Linked DNA regions of Homo sapiens. The protein of the gene in region 2 interacts with the protein of the main gene of each other region in a biochemical or structural test. Each region holds a gene or a part of one and is shown on either strand. Other genes may lie near its edges.

Region 1 (3,500 bases), on a different chromosome or scaffold from region 2:
TGAAATGAAAATAAATAATCCTCTACATTAGCGGTAGGTATAGAGAGCTGTCACAACTTCCTAACTCATCTCTCACCATCCGGTCTCTACACTGTCCAATAATTACAAAAAAAGGGAACTTCTAAACTGCAAATCTAATAAACTAGTCTATCTATTTAAAACACTGTCAGTGATCTTCTGTTGCTCTTAGGATAGAATCTAATCAGGGCTTCCGATATCCTGCCTAATTCTTTTTCAAGGCTTACAATATCCTGCCTAATTCTACCATCTCTTCCAGTGTGCACCATCACTCTATACTTACTGTCTTGAGAAGGTTATGTTACCTTTTGCCTTCAAGCCTGTGTGTGGGTTACTTCTTCCTCTTGGACCACCCTTGCTTTATCCCCATCTCTTCCACTCTTGCCCTCATCTGGCTCATTTCTATTTAAACTTCAGGTGTTAATTTAGCTGACAGCAATGCTACCTGGATTTCCAAAGTCTGGAGTATATGTCCCACTTTTCTCTTCCATGGCACCAGGTATTCATCATTACCCAACGAAATATCACACTAGACTATGGCAGAAAGGGGGCAGCAACTATGCTAACCACTACAGAGCAGTACCTAGCATGTCTATCATTTCATATTATTCAAATTATTCATATATATTCAAAATATTCCTTCATATTATTCAAATAGTTAGATCTTTCTTTCTCTCTCTCTCTGAAAACCTCCTTATTTTGGAGCTGCAAAGAAAAAAGGAAGATAACTTCATAACTATTCATTTGTGGGCTCAAAATGTCAGAATAGAAGAGGTACCTTGTATAATACCATGCATGTCAGACAGTAAAGTTAAAGTGACATAGTTGATCTCAAATACATCATTCTACATCCTTAATCATAGAATGACATTTCAAAAGTTTCAACTATTAATCTGTGGCATAAAAGACAGAATAATAAAAACAACAAATCAGACTCATAAAGTGGGAGATTATAAAACTCACAACCTTAGAGGAAGTAGGCCACTAAAATTACACGTTAAAAAAGAAAGTACATCACCCTTCCCGTGGTGACACATGTTTTAAGCAAATCACAAGTGAGCCGTAAATCACTTACAGGCTCACTTTACAATCTCATCTGTAAAAAAAAGCACCGAATCTAACAGAAGTTTATTCTGAGAAGGTAGTGTATTACCTCTTTCATCAAATAGAACAATGATTCTCATTAATGGGAAGATATTAAATGTGAGATTTTCAAACAACATGAGGTTTTCTGTTCTTTCTACAAATAATTCTTCCTCTAAGCAGGACATATAAGTAGAATGGTACATACTTTCATGGCTTGATGAAGCTTCTCTGCAAAGAAAGCTGGTTTGCTTGTGGCGCACTTCACTGTTAGAGAAGAAAATTTTAGTTGATGTATTTACCATGAAAAAAATGAAATATCCATATGAAAGAAACAGGAAATATAGAATTTTGCCAACAGTGTTCTATCCCTCATCATCATTCTTCACCTCTCATCTCCCAATATAGGGCAGTTAACTTCTGAGAAGGTATTTGTGACTCTCTAGATGGTGGTTTTGAATATTCTTTTCCCTGACGATCAATTTTTTTATTACCTTAAATACATCTCAAGAGCAACTTCAGTAGTTTGCGCTATCCAACATATATTCTCCTTGGGAGTGGAGAAGCCACTAGGTGTTCAAGCCTATGTAAATACTTTATTTATGTTACTATAAGAACATTTAAAAAGAACACCCTATGAACAACAGACACTGCAGACTACTAGAGAGGGCAGGGAGAGAAGGGGCATTGGTCAAAAAACTACTTATTGGGTACTATGCTCACTGCCTGAGTGCAGAACACCCATGGAACAAACGTGCACATGTACCTCTGTGTCTAAAGTAAGAGTTGCACAAACAAATAAGTAAAAATAAATGAATAAATGAAGAAAAAACTCTGGGATAGGATGGGCTTAAATATAAAACAGAACCCAAATAATACTAGCACATTCCAGTTCATAGTGTTCTTCATCTTGTCGAGATCTATGGACCAACAGCATTGGCATCAATGGGGAGCTTGTTAGAAAAGCAGAATCTAAGCTCCACCCCAGACCTGGGGAATCAGAATCTGCATTTTAACAAGCTTTCCAGGGGATTCAAGTGCATAGTCATGAATGAGAAACACTGCTTGAGAACATAGGTTCCCCAACCCTGATGGTTGTCTGAATAACCTGGGAGATCTTTAAAAAGTACCGATTTTTAGAGGCCAACTCGGACCCACTGAATCAGACTCTCCTGGACCTGCCCAAGATTGTACAATTAACAAGCAGTAGACCAGGACTTGAAGTTACATTTATCCAGATGTTACATTTATTCCAGATCCCATGCTCTCAGTGACCATTCTGAATTGCCTCTGTGGTGTGCCCAGCCTGGTACATTGTTTGATATAAGTAGGTGCTCAATAAGTATAGTCTATCTCTCTCTATTTTTGAAAAGGGGAATAATATCTATTGTTATTAAGGTTATAGTACTTTGCCAATCTTTTACGTTGCTTCAATTGAAACAGATGCACTACTTCTGATTGTTTTTTGTTTTCTTTTATTGGTTTTGTTGCTGTTGTTCTTGTTAAGTATAGGATAGCTTTGAAAATACAATTTCTAGTTAGAAAACTCTTTCAACTGCTGGACTACATACCGATAGCTGTGAGGCATTTCTCAATGTCACCTTTCAACTCCAGGTCCAGAACTTTGTTCATGTCATGCTTACTGTACTTGGTGTATTTCTGAAACACTGAATATTAAATTCAAACTAAGATACATGCAAAACATCCTTTTCTTTAGAAAGCTTTAGCAAAATCAAGGCAACTGACTCAAAGAATTTTTTAGAATAACAACTTTGGCTACACCTTTTAAAGCAATATACCCAATTAATCATAACGTGAATACTTCATCCTCTCCTAGGAATGTAACTTACCTGGCCATTTTGGTATTCCTATATATTTTGGCGAAATGTTTGCAAATGTTGACAGTTATTAGAAACGGCATGTGATTGACAACTATAGCACTTCCTACAGCAGTTCTAAGAGCCACAGCAAATGGATCTTCCCTTATATAAAGACCTGTGCACTAAATTTCTCTTACATTTAACAGTAGAAATCAGTATACTATTATAAGATGGTGAACTTTGGTAATTGTCATAACTTTTCCATCGCCTTCACTTCCAAGAGGCCCAGAGCTAAATCTTGCACTCAAAGGCCAGGACTTTTTCTGAGTTTTGTCTTGTTGTTGTTTTTCCAAAGCACCTACATATTTCTTTCTTCATTTAGCTCTGAGGGTTTTTTGTTTTTTTTTTTTTGTTTTTCTTCATTCTAATTTCATTTGTTCTGTTATGCATGTCTTTTCCCACACATATTCCAAATCTTTTAGGGGAGTAAAAGCAGTGAAAATAACAAAATTATGTTCCACATGCCCAAGTCACAAAATGTATTAAATATGATAAAGTAGCGGCTGTACAAAATTGGAC
Region 2 (3,500 bases):
ATAGGAGGCCCTTGTATACCGGAGGGCCAAACTGGGAGGGATCTAGGGTCAGGTACAGTTCATTGCAAAGTTAAGTAGAAATGGCTTGTGGATTATTTTATTTTATGTATTTATTTATGTAGAGACAGGGTTTCCCTCTGTCACCCAGGCTGAAGTGCAGTGGTGCAATCACAGCTCACTGTATCCTCGACCTCTCAGGTTCAAGCCATCCTCCTGCCTCAGCCTCCCAAGTAGCTGGGACTATAGGTGCACACCACCATGCCCAGCTAATTTCTTTAAATTTTTATTTTCTAGAGATGGGGTCTGTGTTGCCCAGGCTGGTCTCAAACTCCTGGACTCAAGCAATCCTGCCTCCTTGGCCTCCCAAAATGCTGGGATTACAGGCATGAGCCACCACACATGGCCTGGATTATTTTTATTATTATTATTATTATTTTTTTGAGACGGAGTCTCACTCTGTTGCCCAGGCTGGAGTGCAGTGGCATGATCTCAGCTCACTGCAAGCTCTGCCTCGCAGGCTCACGCCATTCTCCTGCCTCAGCCTCCCGAGTAGTTGGGACTACAGGCGCCCGCCACCATGCCAGGCTAATTTTTTGTATTTTTAGTAGAGACGGGGTTTCACCATGTTAGTCAGGATGATCTCGATCTCCTGACCTCGTGATCGGCCCACCTCGGCCTCCTAAAGTGCTGGGATTACAGGCGTGAACCACCATGCCCGGCCTCCTGGATTATTTTAAATTCACTGTGGTAGATCCCATTGGCAGCCAAATTAGGATAAGATGTGACCTCAGTGGGTAAAATGACTCTAGGACAGGTGAATGGCTCTGAAATCAGGTGACAGGTCAGACCAGGCACCACATGGGGGAGGGCCTAGGTAGAAGAGTGAGTGTACATGTGTTAGGTGGGGCCATGGGTGGGCCCTGCAGGGTGGCCTCACCTTGGCCACCTGGCCCCGCAGATCATGCAGCTCGCCCTCCAGCGTGCGCTTCTCACTGAGAGCAGTGCTCAGTGCGGCCTCCTTGGAGTTCAGCAGAGCCTCCAGGTCCTTCAGCCGAGCCTGAGCAGCTATCAGGTCACCCTCCTTCTTGGTATTGCTAAAGAAGAGAGGGGAGAGTAGATTTAAGAGAAGGAGTCTGTGTGCCTAGACAGTGCCAGGCTCCCAGGAGGTCAGCCATGGGGGCTGGCGCTGCTATGCCTGCAATTACCAGGAGAGGGCATCCTTGCATTAGGTTGGTTTGCATCTGCTTGCCTCTGGGGCTGGGCTCCCACCTCCCCAAGGTCCTTGAAAACCCCCTTCCTGCTTCTCCACCCTTCCCATGACTCAGGGCTCAGGAACGTGCCTGGGGCCAAGGGCAGAGCTCTACCCCGTGATATGAATGCTTTTCCCTCTCTCTCCTCCCATTCTTTCCCAAAGAGACAGGGGTACCTTTGTCTCCTGCCCCTTCCCACACAGGGCCTTACTTAGCCTTCTCCCTGGACTCTACTCACTTCCCTTTGGCCAAGCTTCCCTCCCTCTGAGGAGCCTGACAACTAAGCTCATGGCCCACATGTCCCTAGCACTTCTCGATCTGAGCCCCAAAGGTACTGGTCACCTCTCCTAGTCCCTTTTACACATGTGGGACTGTGGGGAAGGAAAGTCTGGTTAGAGCTCAGAGGGACCTCAGACAAGGATGACCAGGCACAATATTGACCCTTTCCTTTCTCAGGACCCAGTCTGGGTGCCCTGATCTGCACTGAACAGAGGGGTCCCTGCCTCCCTCCCTCCTGCCTCATCCGTGCCCTGGGAGAAGGCTGAGCCCTACCCATCTACCATAGCCTCAGCATCTGGTTCCAGATGTGGATCCCAGGCCTCCAGGTCCATCTGGGCCCCAGCTTTAAGCCTCCCTGCTCCTCAAAGTGGGTAAAGCTTTAGCTATAACCAGTCGAACAGCGCTGCCTCTGCCACCTCCCTCACCTTTTCTGGGCCCCTGATTATTTTTGCTAGTGGACTGGAGAAATAGAAAGGTCCTATTTTCTTAAAAACCTCCAGAGAACCCAAGAACTTTCTAGATGTTACAATTGCTTCACAAATATAGGGTGAGAGAAAGCAGCAGACCCAGGGAGCGGAGGGAAAGATCCAGAGGACCTGGTTCCAGCTGCCATCTGTAACTCATCAGTGCTTAAGCATGAGCCCACCACAGCAGATGGAAAAAAGGAAAACCAAGCGTGGGCAGAAGGAAAAATCTATCCTGGAAAGGAGAAAAGCAGCCCTGCCAACATTTTTCTTCTACCACAAAAGTCCTAAACTCCAAGAGGCCCAGCAATTCACTGTGAAGAGGGATAGGGAAGGCTAGATTTGCAGAAGCTCTGGAGGACGAGACCCAGGCAGTGTTCTGCTTAGGAGAGTCCAAAAAAGGAGTCACCCCCACCTCCCCCCACCAGGCAGGGAGGAGGATAGAGTGACACTCAGAGGGGCAGGGGAAGGACATGAGAAGCCAGAGGAAGCTCCCCCAGCCTGCACACTTGCTCAGTCCAGGCCTCTGGCCACACCTCAGAACAAGTTGTTTAATGTAAGTGTCTGTCTCCTGCAAAAAAGAGCCCCTTCCAGAACCGGAGAATGTATTCCCTCCTCTGTCTCAGTCAGAAAAGCTAAAAATAAAGTCAAAACCCAGCTCAGGTTTTGGCTGCCATCCGGCCTAGCCCCTGGCTGGGAGCACAGCCCCAACTTTCCATGACTTCAGAACTTTTCCGAAGCTGAAGCAGCTGCAGGGGGAGGAGGGAAAATGAAGAAAAACCGCTGGTAAAGTGAAGCAACTGGGGCAACTTAGATTCCGAGCTCCTTGGGCTGACCCCCAGGCTGGCTGGGGCTTCCCAGAAGAGGCCTCTCTACCCTGAAGGCTAATGGCTGCTGCTGGCTGTACTAGGAGGCTCTCAGAATTTAGAGAACTAGAAGGAGCTTAGAGTTGATTCAGCTCAACCCTCTCCCTTTTATAGATGAGGAAACTGAGGTGCAAAGGAGGAAGGTGAATGGCCCAGTGTCAATTACCGAAAGCCAGCAGCAGCATTCCAGTCAATTCTAGCTGCTGATCTAGGGTTCCTCCTCCTCCACCTCACTGCTTTCCTAAGCCACAAGTTCCAGAGAGAATGGAGAAGCCAGGAGGAGGAAGAGGGCAGACACTATGGCACAAAGCGTTTCCCTGACCAGCCAGCCTGAGCTGAAAGAAGCTGGAAGGCAATGGGATGATTTCAGAAGGTGTCTCAAGGGCACCTTTTCCCTAGTCCTGTCTCCCCAGCCTCCTTAGGTGCCAGGAGGAATTCCTGGAGTTCCCCCTGGTAACAGCCTTTCCTTGCCAGTGCCTGGCAGACACTGACTGAGGAAAACATAGATGCATGATCCCTGTGCTCTGCGAGCTTATGGGCTGATGAGCACAGAAGTTTTTTCTTCAGTCTAACCTCTTCACCTTCTGCTGCTTGCAAAAGCGGTGGTGGCAGTGATAATAATAATATAATAGCAAACACTT
Region 3 (3,500 bases), on a different chromosome or scaffold from region 2:
ACTCAAGAGATCCTCCCACCTCGGCCTCCCAAAGTGTTGGGATTACAGGCATGAGCCACCACACCCGGCTGATTTTCATTTGATGTATCTGGCAACCCTAACTTCATGGCAGGGCCTAGGTGTGAACCCAAGTCTCCCTCCAGGTAAGGCAGGAGCTGAGCTCAGGAGACAAAGCTTCCCCTCTCTTGCCTCAAGGTGGTGGGAGGAATGGTCTGAAGGGGTTGAGAGTTCCCTAGCCCCAAGGGACAGGGCGAGCCGAGAAGGCGGCCCAGGTTTGGAGGCTGCCAGAGCAGACCGCAGAGCCCGGAAACACAGGTCCTGAGGGAAAGGAATGGAATTTCACCCTGACCCAGCAGGGTCGGAAAAGGAAATGAGGCTCCTACACCTCGTCCTGAGGAATGTGCCGGGGGAAGGGGGCTCCGGAGGAGGGAAGGAGGACAGAAGGGGAGACTGTTTGGAAGTTTGTGTCTCCATCTTGTCGCGCTCACTTCCTGTTTTCTTGGAGATCAAAGATGGGCGCGGAGAGACTGGCTTCATGTCCAGCCAAGGCCGGCTCAGAGGAGGGGGCAGGGAGGCTTCTTCTGAACCCTGGGCTGTCTGGAGCCTCACCGGCCTCCTTCCTCACCTTCCCACAGCACGTTGGGCTCTGGGCCCCAGAAGTCAGCAAAGGAAGTGAGATGGTCACCCCTTGCCATGGCAACGCCATTCCCAGCTCTGTCTTGGGAAGGAGAAGATCTGGATGAGGACTTCTGGCTGCCACGGGGGCCCAGGCCTTATATGTCGTCTCTCTGACCCTATCCTACATGTCCCAGGGACTCTGGAGTGCCTGGACATAGTGGCATTTTGGTTAAAAGCAAGCTCCCTGGAGCCAGGCTGACCTGGTTTGCCTCTCAGGCCCAATGCTTACCAGCTATGTGGCTCTGGTGAATGATTTCACCTCTTGGGGCTTCAATACCTGGTCTATAAAATGACAACAGAGCCCACATGATCCACAGAGGTGGCTGGGAGGACTCCATGAGACTGGGCACATGGCAATTCTTTCTTAAATTTCTATTTGTTTATTTTTCAGACAAGGTTGCCCTCTGTCTCCTGGGCTGGAGTGCAGTGGTGTGATAACAGCTCACTGCAGCCTTGAGCTGCTGGGTTCAAGCGATCCTCCTGCCTCAGCCTCCCAAGTAGTTGGGACTACAGTTGTGCGCCACCACGCCTGGCTAATTTTTTAAATTTTCAGTAGAGACTGGGTCTCACTATGTTGCTCAGGCTGGTCTCAAACTCCTGAGCTCAAGCAGTCCTCCCGCCTCAGCCTCCCAAAGTGCTAGGATTACAGGTGTGAGCCACCATGAGTGAGCCAGCATGCCTGGCCGGCAGCTTTCTCTTAATTACAATTATTTGACTGACTTCAGTCACTGTAGAATTGACTGTTCTAAGGGGTGGGGTGAAGTGGCGGGATGGGGTGGCCTCCAGGTGACGGTCCTCTGGGATGGAGAGGTCACTGGGATCTCCCTCACCCCAACAAAATCAAGGGCTGGTGCCATCTCCTGTCTCCAGTCCCTCTGACCCACCAGCCCCCATGTTCTCCCCACCCTCTCCTTTCCTCATCGGTGAGCGCAGGTTCCTTGGCTGTTACCTAGCTTAAGCCCCTCCTACTCAGATGGGGAGACTGAGGTCTGGAGGGACGGGACAGGTCAAAGTCTCACAGCACATGGTTGACCAGGCCGGGCCTCGGACCCGCGTCTCCCAACATGACCCAGTGTCTGGCCTGCAGATTATCGCAGCGCCTCCCTCCTTCCCTTTGGGACTTTCCCTGCCCCCTCCCCAGACTTCCAGGAACCCCAGTTCCTCCCGGATTGCTGGGGCCGCCTGGGGCCGCCTCCTCCATGCCGTCAGCCAGCGGGAGAGGCCACAAGCCTGGCCATTATGTAATGATCAGATAACAGGCCTGGCGGGGAGATCAGATAAGAGGTCCATTTATTTTGGGGCCTTTTCGAATCCTGGCCGCCCCCACCCCGCAGACGAGAATGGGGAGACAGGAGGGAGTGTGACGCCTGGGCCTGTCTCCCGGAGCCTGAGGCGGGCCCAGACCAAGTTGAAAACAATCCCCTGGCACCAAGGGAAACGCCAGGGCCTCCCGGGACTGGGTCAGAGGAGGAGCCGCTGGGGGCCTGGGTGACTGGAACCCCAAGTGAGAGACCCAGAAGCCACCTCCCACCACTGTCCCCTCTCCACCCTCGCCACCCATGTGCACACAGCACCTCCCAGATTTCCAGAGGGCTACCTTCAGCACCTTGGAGGATGATCAAGAAAAACAGCTCTGGAGCCAGATGGCCTGGATCAAATCCCAGCTCTGCCTCTTAAAATGCTGGTCACCTTGAGCAGAAGCCTAACCTCTCTGAGCCTCAGTTTCCCCATTTGCAGACCACCAATAATCACTGCAGATGCTCCCATCATGCTTACTGGGAGCCTAGGCAGCTTTACACGAGTGAACTCATTTGATCCTCACAGCAGCCTTGTGAGGTGGGCGGCGCTATTACACCCATGCACACTCCAGGAAACTGAAGACCAGGGCGGTTAAAGAAACTGAAGACCAGCTGCCCGAGGTGACCCAGCTACTAAGTGTCACGGCCTGGATTTAAACCCAGACAGTCTGGCTCCAGCAAGCAGCAGGCATTCACAGGCTGAGTGTGTCAGTTTGATGGGGTAACCCCTGTTGAGTGCCTGGTACTAAGTAGGTGCCCCAGACACAGAAGCTGTGAATATTATTTCATCATACTAGGACAGATACTTTTCTTCCCGCTGCCACCCCCCCTTTTCTTTTCTGAGATAGAGTCTCACTCTGTCACCCAGGCCAGAGTACAGTGTCTCGATCTCGGCTCACTATAACCTCCCCGTCCCAGGTTCAAGCGATTCTCATGCCTCAGCCTCCTGAGTAACTACAAGTGGACCACCACACTCAGCTAATTTTTGTATTTTTTGTAGAGACGGGGTTTCGCCGTATTGCGCAGGCTGGTCTCAAACTCCTGGGCTCAAGCAATCCACCCATCTCAGCCTCCCAAGGAAGATACGTTTCAACAAGGGTCCTTCTTGCTGCAATGCCTGCCCCGTCTTGTTCAGTACCCCCGGGCCACTCTTTACCCTTTTCAGGCCCAATTACAGCCTCACAGGTTTCCCAGCATCCAGCCCAGCCACTGCCCCCAGCCACCAGGAGGTCTCAGCATGCCTTGGCCCCGGGCTCCCCCCTGGTTCTACGATGCCTGCAGGGTCAAGTTCCTGCACTGCAGCCTACAGTAGAGGTGAAAAGCACAGCGATTTGACAGATGCCAAAGGTTCAGGTCCTGATTCTTCCACCTGCCAGCTGCCTTTCCATCCTCAGTGTTCTCATCTGTAACATGGGGATGAGGGTCATCATAACAGCTTCCCATGGAGTCGGCAAGCAGGCCAGTAAATTACACCTGCACAGCGCTAGGCCGGCTCCTGCTAAGTGGGGGTTGCTCAGGAACTGG
Region 4 (3,500 bases), on a different chromosome or scaffold from region 2:
GACTACAGGCATGTACCATTGTACCTGGCTCCAAAAAAACAGCTTAATTCTGAGCAGAAGTACAGTAACTTTGTGATGAAGAATTAAAAATAAAGATTCCCTACTAGAATACACTAGTACTTGTTTAAATGTATCTGAATACCTAATTCCTGTTGGTGTAGATGCTTCATAGGGGAACATTTCCTTAAGAATATCCCTTTCTACTCTTCTTTCCTCTGTTTTTTCTCCCACCTAATAAGAAACAGACAAACAAACAACCACAAGTTAAAATTTAGTGTAAACATGCAATAATTAAAACATAAATAGTAAGTTTTAGAGAACAAAATGCCTTTAAATCTATCATAGATTTTACAGCTGCCATTTCTAAATTATTATTTAGGTATCCACATGCTTCCAAGGCTCTCTTCAAATTTCTTGAAGATACCTTATATATGTGGTTATTGGAGTGAAAAACTGCCACACATTTAAATAACTGGGGGGAAAAAATTCAGTAATCTAACATGGCAATGCTAATTCCCTCATTGATTTTGTTTTTTACTATTAAGAGTATATTGTTGGGCCGGGTACGGTGGCTCACGCCTGTAATCCCAGCACTTTGGGAGGCTGAGGCGGGTGGATCACCTGAGGTCAGGAGTTCGAGACCAGCCTGACCAACATAGTGAAATCCCATCTCTACTAAAAATACAAAAATTAGCTGGGCGTGGTGGCGGGCACCCGTAATCCCAGCTACTCAGGAGGCTGAGGCAGGAGAATCGCTTGAACCCAGGAGGCGGAGGTTGCAGTGAGCTGAGACCGTGCCACTGCACTCCAGCCTGGGCAACAGAGCAAGACTCCGTTTCAAAAAAAAAAAAGTATACTGTTTCTTCATTTATTAAGAATTCTGTAGTAAAAGATAAAATACAGAAGATACTTAACATGAACCTTTAGCAAACTTTACTATATGTTTTAAAATTATAGTCAATGCAATATGCCCAAATTAAAAAAAATATAATGTTTAGCTTGTTTTACTGTTTACCTTTATGTCCAGAACAAAATAATAAATGTTTCGGCTCCTTTTGTAAAGATTCATTCAAATTAAAATGCACCATGCAGTTAGTACTTTCAAGCTTAATTACACAGGAGTTAACCCATTCCAGCACCACATGAAGTTATGTTAAAGTCTCTTATTTGACCCGTCAACAAAAGAAAGTGTAGCCTCCCTCATAGCCCAGCAGCACTTTCAAACTTGCATCCATGACAAACAGAACATATTATAAGCAGAACAGAAATGACCACTCCCTTGAAAACTGGAACTTAAGAGGGATACAGTGGCAAGAGGATAGTATTAGCATGTCAAACTATATTAGTTAATTTCTGTTTTCACTAATAAAAGTGTCCTTAAAATAATTTATGCATATTTACACACACCACCCAATAAAGAAAGCTCTGCTCCCTCCCACTCCAAAAAAAAAAAAAAAAAACAAACAAATATTTATATTTCCTCTTTGAAAGATCAATGATAGCATCGATCTAAATTGTATTCATTTACTTCAGCTCTTGTCAATGGTTTCTTTGGTGCTCTTCTGGGTATGTCTGAGAATTCAGTGATTGGCAGAATAGGAGATGCATGCTTGAAATTTCCAGTCACCCTATTGACAACCTGCCAAGATTCAAATTATTCAGACTCAGAATTATCCAAACATAACACAGACACTTAAAAAGAAAAGAAAGATATTTTATCTCTGTAATATTAGAAATTTTCCCTTAGTAAAGATTTAAGCAACACAGCCTACAAACACAACTTAGTGCCTCACATATGAAGCCTCATTCTTCAAATATTTTAACAAAAAATATCCTTATACTTTCTTGTACAATGAATTAGATTTCTTTACATAAATTGGATATTATAGGAAAATTCTAAAATTCAGAACTATATGGGGAAAATCAGTTTAAAATTGTTAAAAAAAAAAAACATGTAAATTTGAGATTTGCCAAAATTCACCACCTCCCCATTTCCAATTAAAGGGTAATTTACAAAGAATACCACTTGTATAGTTTATGAAACATATTTACTAAGGATTCGTTGCTTGAAGCCATTATAGTTTCAGCTATGGGAGTACTCTCTGAAATTACTGGACCATCTATACGAAAATGTTCTGAAGTTTCCACCTGTTAGTTTGAAAACAAAACAAAAACAATAAATATAAAATAATACTAAAACCCTACAAATCTGAAAACCCAAGGAATAAGCCTTGCATCACCCTTTTCCTTGGAGTTCTTCTTGACCCTCTTGTAGATTCCCTAGTTAATGCCTGCAGAGGTCCGCCTTTTGAAGATCCACTTGTCCATTCAGTCTCAGTTATTCCAGCTTGAGAATAGCTCTATTCAAGCATCAACACATTAAAAAGTCATATTCTAACATCAAATACTTTAATAACGGCCATACTGGCACACTGAGAAGCCATGAAATAGAAGTCTCCAAATGCCAGCATTTACAAACAAGGCTATGTCCTCAAAATATTCCTAAATGTATTAATTGAACTGATATTTAGGCATCAGGAAACACTTAAAAAGTGCTAAAATACACTAAAGAATCCACCTATAGTAGCTCACAAATTATAAACATTATGGGAAAAAAAGCACATCAACTATCACCAGTTCCCTTTTTGACTCACTGTGTGCTATTTGGCTCTAGTATTGGAGCTACATCTCTGTCTAAACAAAAAGCAGACTGATCATGACTTAGAAAAAAGTCATCTATTATAAGTCAGTTTCCTTTTAAAACAAAAATACAAACTTTTGTAATTGTTAGCATAAACATTATTATTTTCATATGGTTATAATCATTTTAGTAGAATCAGTTTAAATTATAATCCCACATATAGCTTATTTGAACTAAAAAATTCTCAGGTGTCAAATTTTTCTTGGAAACAGATACAAAATTAGGTAGCCACAAAAACCCTGTGGTCACTCTTTAATGAATATGCAAGCCTAACGTCACTTTCAAATCTCAATGCTATCCATGTCACTACAGAAAGACAGAAAACAGCTGCCTCAGATTAATTCTCAGTCTCAGATTAATTTCTATGTTCCACTGATCATTTTTAAAGAATCCAGCATTTCTTACATACTGGTTTAAAACCCATTAGATCAGTTCTTCTTAAATTGTAATGTGCCTATCAATCACTTGAAGCTTCTGTTAAATGCAGATTCTGATTCTGTAGCTGTAGGGCCCGAAATTCCGCATTCCAAGTAGTTTAAGGTTTTCAGTTTTGAAGTCGCTATTACCAGATGATTCTTTTAAATTCTTTTAACTACAGAACATCCATCAATGATCAGTATTATAGTAGAGTGTCCTTCTGTTGTCACTTTTGCTTTCACGCCAATATTTAACCTAGATTACTGATGGTTTTAGGTCCAAGTCAATGTCTATTAAAGACAGATTTTTTTTTTAAACTTTAATCCTGTGACAGGAGTGGTCATCCAATAAATATGCCTAAATGGCTGGATGTAATACTACC
Region 5 (3,500 bases), on a different chromosome or scaffold from region 2:
ATAGGTCTCTGCTGGTGGTTCTGAAGCCAAACCTCTGATCTTCACATTTGTCCCCACTGTCAGAAGACTACCAACCCATACTCAGTTGGCTGACACCTCTAAATTCCTTGTTAAAATTCCAGAAGAATCAAGTGATAAGAGTCCAGAAACTGTAAATAGGGTAGGATTATTTTTATTCTTTTTTAATTTCAAACAATTATATTAAATTTTGATAATGATGACTTGGAAATTTGTGTATATTTCCTGTGCTTAAATTAAGGTGACTGTGACTCTAAGTTTGACTAAAAATATAATAATGCAACAGAAGCATAAATGTTATCAAATTGCATGTTCTCTCTAATGCATTATCTTCAATTTTTTTCAGTTTGACATCCTATTGTTTGCTATTGACATGACAAATTCTGCCTCCTGGCACATTCTCTCAAATGTTTCTTAAGAAAATAAAAACAAAATTTAAAAATGTTTAAATTTATCTCAAAAGAAAATATAAGACAAAACAGTGAGATATTATTATTTACAGGTAATGAATTAGCAACATTAAAAAATGTAATACCTGATGTTGGGAAAGTTGTGGAAATATTGGCATGCTTACACTTTGCTGCTGGTTTTGTAAATTTATACAATTTTGGTGGAAATACTTTATCTATAGTTATAAAACTGTTTATAACCTTTCAATAATCTAACTCTTTGAAAAGTATCCCAAGGAAATATTACAAAAGAAGAAAAATGTTATGTAGGTAAATAATTAGGGAAAAATAAAAAATGCCTAATATCTAACAATCAGAAAAGTTAAGAATATAATAGTACCTCACTTTGGCAAAGTTATACTGATGGTAATTAGATAATTCCATGGAAAATGTTAACCTTACAATATTAGGTGATATAATACTGTGTTCATATCTTGATTGTACCTATCTAAAATGAGACCAAGATGGGAAGTGAAATTACACAAATTTAAAAATCTTGAAAATAACTTGTGTTAGAATAACAAAATTTTGAGTAAAAATGTTTTTCTCTTTAAAATGTGTTTTAACATTGCTTACTTATAAATAAAATGAGATTGGGGCAACTTTGTGTTATTCTTGACACAATTAGAAAGGAGTAAAATAATCAGATTCACCTTGTCTACAAGAAAACATCTTATCTAGAAAATAGTAATATTTCCATGATCCTGGGGTTTTCAATGCTGCTATCTTCTTTCAAAGACTAATGGGGCCATGAATACTATATATGGCACTTCTAGATAGTTTCTTTCCTACAGCACTCATTTACATAATATTAATGAGATCCTTTGTAATTAGGCCTTATGAGTGGTGTGAGACTGTAGCTACATAAACCAACCTTGGTTGCAAGCCTCCAGAGCTTCCTAAGATGATAATATTTATCTGCTGATTGCAATGATATATATACAACCACATCTTTAAAAGATTTTTCACCCTATCTCTTAGACAGTTCAACATTAAAATAGTGTAATTCCTCATTCATTTATATTCTTTTTTTTTTTTTTGAGACGGAGTCTCGCTCTGTCGCCCAGGCTAGAGTGCAGTGGCGCGATCTCGGCTCACTGCAAGCTCCGCCTCCCGGGTTCACTCCATTCTCCTGCCTCAGCCTCCCGAATAGCTGGGACTATAGGCGCCTCTGCCACCGCGCCCGGCTAATTTTTTTTGTATTTTTAGTAGAGACGGGGTTTAACCTTGTTAGCCAGGATGATCTCGATCTCCTGACCTCGTGATCCGCCCTCCTCGGCCTCCCAAAGTGCTGGGATTACAGGCTTGAGCCACCGCGCCCGGCTTCATTTATATTCTTAGCAACTGTTTACTGAACATATGTTATTCTCTTGATGATTGGATTCCAACTGAATAAAGACAATTCATATAGCTTACTTGTTATCGGGAAGGCAGGCAATGAAAAAAATGAAAAAAGTATGTAATAAAATCCATATAGTGATAAATACAATGAAAACAATATCAGAGTAAATAGGGAAAGATGGGCAGAGAAATTTTAATCAGAGGCAATTTGTGTTTTATCCTGACTATATCCTCATTATCAGCTGAATAATGTGGGTGTATAAAATCAACTTTTTAGTTATATTTAATCAGTGATTTGACTTCTGTCTTCATACATACAATACATGCACACACAGTACACATTAAATTGACCACCAGAGTTGAAATTATTAGCATATTTTCATTTAGTGGCATAACTCTCTATTTTGAAATAATTTTAGCCTTACAGAAAAGCTGCAGAGAAAAGAATAATAGTAACCATAGTGTAATAATAAAAATAAGAAAATTAACATTGGGTCTTTTAAACACAATCTCAGTATACATGGCTGTCATAGTTTTAGAAAAAGAAGTTTGGTAGCTTGATAAAGCTATCTTGATCCTGGTCTTGTAAACTATGTATTCACAGAAAATTGGATGGGAAAAGACTGAGAATTACAAATCCAAAATAAAACAGTGAAAGATGCTTTGTACTAAAAATATCTGCATCTTTTTTGGTGTTCTATTTATGAGTTCTCCCTAATTAACTTAGATTGTTTTGTCTGACTATGCATTTTGCCCAATTTTATTTTTCCTTTCAGATTTTTAGAGAGATTTTGTATTATTTTAGAAACTTTCAATGGGGATTTCCTTCCTCCCTTGGCTTTTAAAGGATATACAGTTTGCTTCACCATTAACTAAACCCTTGCCCAATCCCCATTTGTTTCACAAATGTCTTCACGGAAAACATTGCTCTCTCCCTCTCTCTCTTTAAAATGTCGTATCATGACTTACTTGAAAACAGTTAGGTTTGCCTGTTGATGTTGATTACTATCCCAAAATTGTTTGGGCTTAGACCAGGAAAAACAGGTGGGCTAGTGGGCTAGTAAAAATAAACTGCTAACTTCAACCCAATCTCTTTCTTATGTCAACCTAATTTAATATATTTTTGAAAATATAAGGAGGTTAAGCTTTTCAGTGTACATGCCAAAAAAGAAGCATTTATTAAACTAATGTCAATGCTTTTATCTCTCTACATCTATTACAGTCTAAATCCAATGACTACTTGACCTTGAATGCTGGGAGCCAACAAGAGAGAGACCAAGCGAAATTGACTTGTCCTTCAGAGGTCAGTGGAACGATTTTACAAGAAAGGGAATTCGAAGCAAACAAACTTCAAGGGATGCAGCAAAGTGACCTCTTCAAAGCTGAATATGTCCTTATTGTGGACTCCGAAGGGGAAGATGAGGCTGCAAGCAGAAAAGTTGAACAAGGCCCCCCAGGGGGGATTGGCACCGCAGCTGTCCGGCCCAAGTCTCTAGCTATCTCGTCCAGTCTGGTCTCTGATGTAGTGCGTCCCAAAACACAGGGGACTGATCTCAAGACCTCATCACATCCTGAAATGCTTCATGGGATGGCCCCTCAGCAAAAGCATGGGCAGGTAGGTTTTGTGTTCCTGCTGTCCATAAGGAAAAAAAAAGCGTTTATGCACCCTTTGTCTTGGGCGGTCTGCAAAGG
Region 6 (3,454 bases), about 74 Mb from region 2:
TAAATATCCCAATTGAGAAATGTGCTATTACAGAAGAAAGATAATTATATAAACATAATTTACATAAGAAATAAAAATGGTAAATGTGAAAAATGTATAATCTCTTAGTAATTAAAGAAATTCAAAACAGAATAACATCTCTCTCCTATCAAGGAAGCATAAAGAAACAAAAATCAATAATATTAAAGTTGACTCACTAGTAGGAAAATAAATTAGTAATATTCTAGGGGGCAATTTGGCAATATTTATATAAATCCTTTAAAAATGATGTGGTTTTCTGACAAATAATACAACTCATGAGAATTCATCTTCTGAAAATAATTCAGCTGCAAGCACCATCTATAAAAGGGAATTTGGACAGATACCTATGTCTAACCATGGTGTACTTATTAAATAAAACAACAATATCTACTCAATGGACTACTATGCAGCCAAAAAAAATATATGTCGAATGTTTTCACTGACCCAGAGTTACTTAAAATATTACACAGGAAAAAAGGTAACTTTAAAAAAATGCATTTATGATCCAATTTAGCTACTATATATATTTATATGCACATCTATATACATACACATAGTAAAGGGACTACAACAAGATACTCCAAGGTGACAACCGAGGTTATCTGGGTAACTGAGACTATGAATGAGTTTTTTAAATTATCCTTTTATTTTTCTTTTCTGAGGTTGCTATAATAAAAATATATTGCTTAGGTAATAAGAAAAAACAATTAGGATTATTTCTTAAACTGCATAGGAAAAAAAAATTCCTAAATGAACTTCACAGAGCTAACACAGGAGGAGCAGGCAGGAGCCCTGGCACCTGTGCTAAACGTCACCGACCTGCCTGAGGTGCCCACTATCGCCACCCAGAGCAGACACCTCAGGCCACAGACTCTAACTTTCCCTGACTTCTTCAGAAAGCATACTTAGAGGGAAGGCAGAAAATGTGACATTTCAAGAATACTTCCCATGTTACTTGAAGAATTTGAAAGGCAAGTATATTTAAACAGGGCTGAATTATACGCCCATGTACCCAAAGTAAAAAGCCAAGTTTTATGTAGTTTCCAGTGCAGACGAGGGAACACCAAACCACTGAGCCAAGACGAGAACCAAACACAGAAAGGTCCCAAGAGTCAGCAATTTTTCTATTGAATTAATCTCATCCCAGGGTCAATTTTCAGGATTCTATTGCAATACTTACTGCATAAAACTATGTATTAAAAAATAGTAAGAAAAACACGATGTAAAATACATCAAAATATACTACATAAACCCCAAAGGATTTTCTATGTATACCAATACTACGAATTAGAACATCTTAAGTCTTTCATTCTCCAGCTCTTTCAGACCATGCAGCCAAAGCCTCTGGACAGTGTCACTGGCGGCACTTCTGTCCCATAGCCTTAGGCCGTATATCTTTTCTCTCCTTCATGTTTGGCCTTGTGGTACTTGAGATAGTCATTATAGAGCTCCTTAAAGATGTCTCTCATTCCCGGCTGCAGCGAGGCCCGCAGGAACTGGACGTCAGGCTCGATGCAGAGGTCCAGGATGAGGTAAATGCCCTCCTGCAGCAGACTTTTCACAGCTGGATATAAGGTCACCTGAGGAAAAAGGCAAACCTCTGTGAGAACAATTGGGGGCAGAGATCAAGCCGCACCACCTGCCAACAATGCCTTGGGAAGCACTAACAAGTAATTTCAAACTGACCTCCAAATTGAGAAAAAAATCGACATTCACTTTTAAAATATAATTTTATTACTAAGTCAAACCTTTAAATACTCATATTTTTAAAGTTTGTATTTTGGGGAAATAGAAGCTAACTCAAGCAAACACAAACCTGGAATAAAACTCCATGAAAGCAAAAGGCTGGCTTTGCTGTTCAGTAAATGATGCTTACATGTTTACCAGGGGCATTTTAAAAAACTGGAGTCTTTAAATTTAAAAACCTTATAAGAAGATAAGCTGCCTGCCCATTGTGTCAAATTCTTCTACACCGTCAATCACCTTGGAAGCTATGCCAACCCTGTGGGACAATGACAACTACGTTCACCATAACACTATGACCCCCATCTCACCCCAGAGCAAGGCAGCAGGCAGGCTCTGAAACTACCAAAACAGACCACTGATAAGCCTACACTAGTAATTAGATCACATCATATCACCCAAGAGCAGAAGTGATTTCATGATTGCCATTTAATAGATTCCTTTTTTATTTATGTCAAGAACAGCACAATATGCACTTAATTCCTAACAGCCCTGGAATGGTTGAACTGGTCCTCATCCCTAAAGATGCACTTCTCCCCTGAAGTTCAGGGTTACCTAAAATCTGGAGCACAGGAGTGTGGGTGGCAGCCAGCTCCAACCTGGCTGTATCTGATGCTCCACCCAAACTTCCAGAGAAGAGACTCAGACTAATATCAAACCAACCTAAAAGGCTGGGGGAACAGGTTCTCTTCACACTTACCACATCCATTCAGGTTTCAACTAAATGTGGGCTGAACAGAGTTTGAAACCCTAGTAACTGAAACTAAAAAGCAGTAGTAATGAACAGTTCTGGGAACAGATGGTGGTGATGGCTGCACAATATAAGAATGTATATACTACTACTGAAGTGCACACATAAAACAGTTAAGCTGGTAAAATTCACCTTATACTAGATGTATTTTGCCATTACTTTTAAGAAGTAGAAAAAAACCAAAGCAGTGGTAGAGCATCAGCAGACAGGCCTGGAATTTGGCTGATCATTTATTGCTACCCTGATAACCTGAAAGGGTTAATGTGTCTCTGCAAACACAGTTTCTAATGAGGACATATTTTATTAACCAGAAGAACTGATTCACGAAGGCAACCACTGGGAAGTACATTCCTAAAGAGGCAATTTGTTTCTGTCTCTCAGACGATGCTACTCTTCAAAGTTATGATCCTTTTCATGTAATAGTTCAGAAATTTCTGACAAGTGATCATCTTAAATTTTACCATTTTATAGATGATAGCAACACTCAAGGACCGAAGGTAGAATGGCGTGTCTGTGAATTTTACAGCAAGGTAATTGGGAGGGAAAGAAAAAAACAAAACAAAACGAAAAACAGACAAAAACACAAAGTCCTTGATCATACTGGCAGGGTGAGGGCTTTGTAAGTGGACTACTTATTCATACTTGTTCATTCATTTAATTATCACTTACTAAATAAATAATTCCACTTCCAAAGGCAAAAAATGAGGTTCAGTGACCTCCCCAAAGTCACACAGCTAATAACTGGCAGCGCTAAGACTTGAACCTAGGCAGTCTGAGCCCAGAGCCCATGCTCTGAACTACTTACACAGTTTCTCAGTAGTGAAAATGCAGCTAGACAGCCTCTTGCAAAGAGCTCTGGGGGTAGTAAGAAGGCCAGTAGGTTTTAGACAACACAACCACTTTAAATCTTTAGGTTTCAGATAACTTATTTATAAAACA
Region 7 (3,500 bases), on a different chromosome or scaffold from region 2:
AGGCACAATGCCTTTTAGCTGGAGCAGTCAGGAGAGCGTCACAGGAGGTAGCATCTGTGCCAGGCCCTGAAGCCCAGGTAAGACTGGTTACATGTATGTGGGGAAGGACAAGGCAAAGCGGCAGGAAATTACATCTCGAGTGGGAAGCAGCACCTTCATGGAGGAAGGGGAAGATGAGAGAATGAAGTTTGGAAGTGTTGGTTGGGCCCTACCATAGATGGCCTTGGATGCCAGGCCACCAGAGCTTGATCTGGCAGGCAGTGAGGGCCAGAGAGGCTTTGAGCAAGGGAGTATCATGCTGAGAGCCAGGTGCCAGGAAGGTGAATGCGGCAGCAGCTTGAGTAGCACAGTTAAGCAGAATCATTTTCAAGTGTTATTGACAAAACAACTGGATTGGGAAAGGGAGAGGAGGAACCGAATCGAGAGGCCATCTACGTGGTCCAGGCAGGCCTGGCAAGGGCAGGAAGAGTCCTAGTGGGAAAAGGAGGATGCTAGAAGCCACCTGTGTCTCAGGGGACCCCTGGGGTCAAGATCAACTTTGAAGTAGGAGGATCTGGCTGTGTTAGGGGAAGGCGACAGGCTTCAGTTCAGTTTCAAAGTTTTAAAATATGACCTTCAGCTGCTCCCTTCCCCAGCATGCAGAAACACACTCACTGGCCACCCGAAGTCCCCCAGGCTGTGCTGGGTCAGGGCAGTCAGGCCACGCACACGTGTTAAATAGTGTATGCGTGCGTGGCCCTGCACCCTCCCTGCTCTCGGGGAGTCAGGCAAACCACAGCACAGGAGCGAGGACCAAGGGCTATGGCAGGTCACCAAATCTGGGGCCATTTCATCAAACAAAAGGCCCCCAGGGGCTGAGGGCTTCCCAGGGGAGATGGCCCCTGGGCTGGACCGGGGAGGTTGGGCAGGACTAAGTGGGAGGCTGCCAGCTCCATCCTATGGGAGCAGGCCTCCAAAGCCACTCGGGGGAGCTGCCCCTTGGCGTGCTGTGCTGAGGCCCCACTGCCCAGCACACAGACATCCTCTTCCTCCAAGGGGCCCCTCAAGACAATAGACCTGGCATTCCAGGTCGCCTGCCTGTGTCATGAGTCAGAATCCCCGTGGTGCCCATGGCCTCCCTGCCTTTCTTTTTTCTCAGGCTGTGTTTATTTATAGTGCCATTCCGGTACCTTCCGAAGCTATCTGTCTGATTCTTTTAGGGATCAATTGCAAAGAGACCTTGCTATTGGGCAGCTTTTTAGTCATTTAATGCAAAATGCCACACTGCTTTGCAGGTCAGGTTTTAATGATCTGGAATCGATCCAAGCTAAGTGGCTTTTGATCTTGCTGCAGAGTGAAGATGCCCCACAGAAGCCAGGAGCCGCTGGGCAACATGCTCCTTATTAGAGCTGATGGCTTGATTCTTGCTGCATTTTTTAGTCTGTTTCAGAGTGATTTTTCCTTTGTGTTTGAGCATGTGTGGTTTTTTTTCTCCTAGGTAATTTTGAGTGTGGAAATCCAGAGAATCTAAAAAGCAAATGCATTCCTGTTATGGAAGCCCAAGAATATATAGCCGTAAGTAGGCTTCAGTGCTTATACATTCCTGGGAGGGCCTGGTGCTTTCCTATTGGTCTTTCAAGCCCTGTTGGGGTTTTTGTTTTTTGTTTGCTTTGTGGCTTTTGTACTAGGCTACCTTAAGTTAAGGTTTGGTTTATGGCTTTTTGTGCTAGACTACCTTCAGTTAAGGCAGCCATGGTAGTGACTGCCCCAGAGCCAGGCCGCCATGTGCAGTGGGGCGGCTCACTCCTGACTGCTGCACTGTAGGTGTGCCTGTTACCTGCTTCTCCCTTGGTTCACTTTGCTCGTCTTGCCTTCGGCTTTCAGGAGAAACATGCTGTCCCTTCTCCCCCGTATGATTACCATTCAGACTGCCCAGGGGCCGTCTGATTTCCTGTGTGGCCTCAGGATGGTAGATTATAGAACTATGGAGCTGGTATTCCAGGTCGCCTGCCTGTCCAGTAACTTAGGGGTCATCTGGTTCCATTTGCATTTCACAGATGAAGAAACTGAGGCCTGGAGAGGGTCAGGGACTTGCCTGAGGCCAGACCACTTGCACCGGCCACTGGGCTCACCCACCCCCAGCCACAACGCTGTTATTCGCTTTACCCTAAGATGAGCTGCCAGCTCTCTGGCCTGATGCTTCCATCCTCGAGAGAATCATATTCTTTTGGCCGCCTCAGACCCGCACTGTTTTCCTGCTTGTGCTTCCGCATCACCTCCTCTGGTTATAGCCTCTTCCTTGGCTTTCATCAACCCCCGATTTCCTTCCTGCCACTTTGCTGTGCTTTTAGCAGAACAGGGTTTTGGGGCTGTGGAGGACACGGGAGAGGGCTTCCTTAATCCAGCAGCAGAATAATGTTCCAGCTGCTCCGCCCAGACGCCGAACTAACCTTCTCCCGCGCCCTCCCACAGAATGTGACCAGCAGCTCCTCCGCCAAGTTTGAAGCCGCACTGACCTGGATACTGAGCAGTAACAAGGACGTGGGCATCTGGTGAGTGTGGGCAGGGTGGCGACGCAGCATGGGTGCCTGCAACCACTGTCCTCGCTCGTCAGCTAACACCCGTGCTCCAACAGAGCTGTCTCAGGTCTGAAGCTGGAGGCTGGGTCTCCCAGCAGAATCATGTGGGTTAGGATGGAAGTGGGGCAACAAAAGCAAGAAGCATTTGGAATGCAGTGTAAGGAGCAGCTTCAAGATGAGACACAAAATCCAGGTGTTAGGATGTTAGCCTGGTGTTCCAGCTAAATCCTGTCTCAGGTAACTCAGTCTGTGCCTTTCTCATTCATCAACAACACCACATGGTTTGTTGGGGAAGGCATTTTTCTGCACTTCCCCTCCTCGGGAGCTAGTTTTTATTTGTAGATGAAATTATTCTTTCTGTATGTTGGTTTTACTTACTATGGAAATCGCATAAGGAAATACTGGATTTTATTCTGACCAGGCAGTTTCTGCCTCATTTTTATCACTGGTGAGCACTGTTAGAAAAGGTAGCAAACCCTTTCATGAGGCTGAAAGGCTGTATCTGGCGGCTCAGCCCAGGGGGAGGGGCGTGTCAGCCAACAGCCAGGCAGCCTTGAGAGACCTGTCCCCTGCTGGCAGAGCAGCATCACTTCCCCACTTCCCACTCTCGGTGTTTGTGGGGGTCTCTGTTCAGGTTATAGCTCTTGATATTAAAACGTCTCTAGAGTTTTGTTCTTTTCCTCTCTAATCCACCCAAATTACTAATTCCATCAGCACTGCATCCAGCAGAAGCCCCTCGGGCAGCTCCACCTCAAGCTGGATAACTGGATGCATGGCACGATTAAAATTTGTTGGCTTAAAAAAAAAAAAAAGCTGCCCTGAGTAGCTGAGCAATTTTCCTGTGTTAGAAAAGGCGGAGGAGAATACGGATTTTATCCTCAGCAGCAGCGCTCACTGAAGCTGCTAACACAGAAGAATGATGACACTCACCTTTTCATGTTG

What was found.
Region 1: the proteins of LMNA (region 2) and ANXA1 interact in a test that uses a peptide from one of them, tested with the Homo sapiens proteins (one large-scale study listed by BioGRID).
Region 3: the proteins of LMNA (region 2) and ENG interact on a protein array, tested with the Homo sapiens proteins (one large-scale study listed by IntAct).
Region 4: the proteins of LMNA (region 2) and TMPO interact in far-western blotting, tested with the Homo sapiens proteins (one study listed by BioGRID).
Region 5: the proteins of LMNA (region 2) and MLIP form a complex in vitro, tested with the Homo sapiens proteins (one study listed by BioGRID).
Region 6: the proteins of LMNA (region 2) and URB2 form a complex in vitro, tested with the Homo sapiens proteins (one study listed by BioGRID).
Region 7: the proteins of LMNA (region 2) and LEMD2 interact in far-western blotting, tested with the Homo sapiens proteins (one study listed by IntAct).

The regions. Positions count from the first base shown.
Region 1 is NC_000009.12:73,165,365-73,168,864, reverse strand, and holds part of ANXA1 (annexin A1), read right to left. Parts: intron 2,769-3,500; coding exon 2,673-2,768; intron 1,369-2,672; coding exon 1,310-1,368; intron 1-1,309. UniProt on the Homo sapiens protein: Plays important roles in the innate immune response as effector of glucocorticoid-mediated responses and regulator of the inflammatory process. Has anti-inflammatory activity.
Region 2 is NC_000001.11:156,128,211-156,131,710, reverse strand, and holds part of LMNA (lamin), read right to left. Parts: intron 1,885-3,500; exon of another isoform or gene 1,862-1,884; coding exon of another isoform or gene 1,803-1,861; intron 1,095-1,802; coding exon 938-1,094; intron 1-937.
Region 3 is NC_000009.12:127,844,659-127,848,158, forward strand, and holds part of ENG (endoglin isoform 1 precursor), read right to left. Parts: intron 2,478-3,500; exon of another isoform or gene 2,285-2,477; intron 1-2,284. UniProt on the Homo sapiens protein: Vascular endothelium glycoprotein that plays an important role in the regulation of angiogenesis. Required for normal structure and integrity of adult vasculature. Regulates the migration of vascular endothelial cells.
Region 4 is NC_000012.12:98,543,090-98,546,589, reverse strand, and holds part of TMPO (thymopoietin), read right to left. Parts: intron 2,361-3,500; coding exon 2,241-2,360; intron 2,149-2,240; coding exon 2,053-2,148; intron 1,640-2,052; coding exon 1,529-1,639; intron 232-1,528; coding exon 143-231; intron 1-142. UniProt on the Homo sapiens protein: May help direct the assembly of the nuclear lamina and thereby help maintain the structural organization of the nuclear envelope. Possible receptor for attachment of lamin filaments to the inner nuclear membrane.
Region 5 is NC_000006.12:54,121,443-54,124,942, forward strand, and holds part of MLIP (muscular LMNA-interacting protein), read left to right. Parts: intron 1-4; coding exon 5-160; intron 161-3,030; coding exon 3,031-3,423; intron 3,424-3,500. UniProt on the Homo sapiens protein: Required for myoblast differentiation into myotubes, possibly acting as a transcriptional regulator of the myogenic program. Required for cardiac adaptation to stress through integrated regulation of the AKT/mTOR pathways and FOXO1.
Region 6 is NC_000001.11:229,657,247-229,660,700, reverse strand, and holds the end of URB2 (unhealthy ribosome biogenesis protein 2 homolog), read right to left. Parts: intron 1,602-3,454; coding exon 1,404-1,601; 3' UTR 501-1,403; downstream 1-500. UniProt on the Homo sapiens protein: Essential for hematopietic stem cell development through the regulation of p53/TP53 pathway.
Region 7 is NC_000006.12:33,779,131-33,782,630, reverse strand, and holds part of LEMD2 (LEM domain-containing protein 2), read left to right. Parts: intron 1-1,477; coding exon 1,478-1,554; intron 1,555-2,451; coding exon 2,452-2,531; intron 2,532-3,500. UniProt on the Homo sapiens protein: Nuclear lamina-associated inner nuclear membrane protein that is involved in nuclear structure organization, maintenance of nuclear envelope (NE) integrity and NE reformation after mitosis.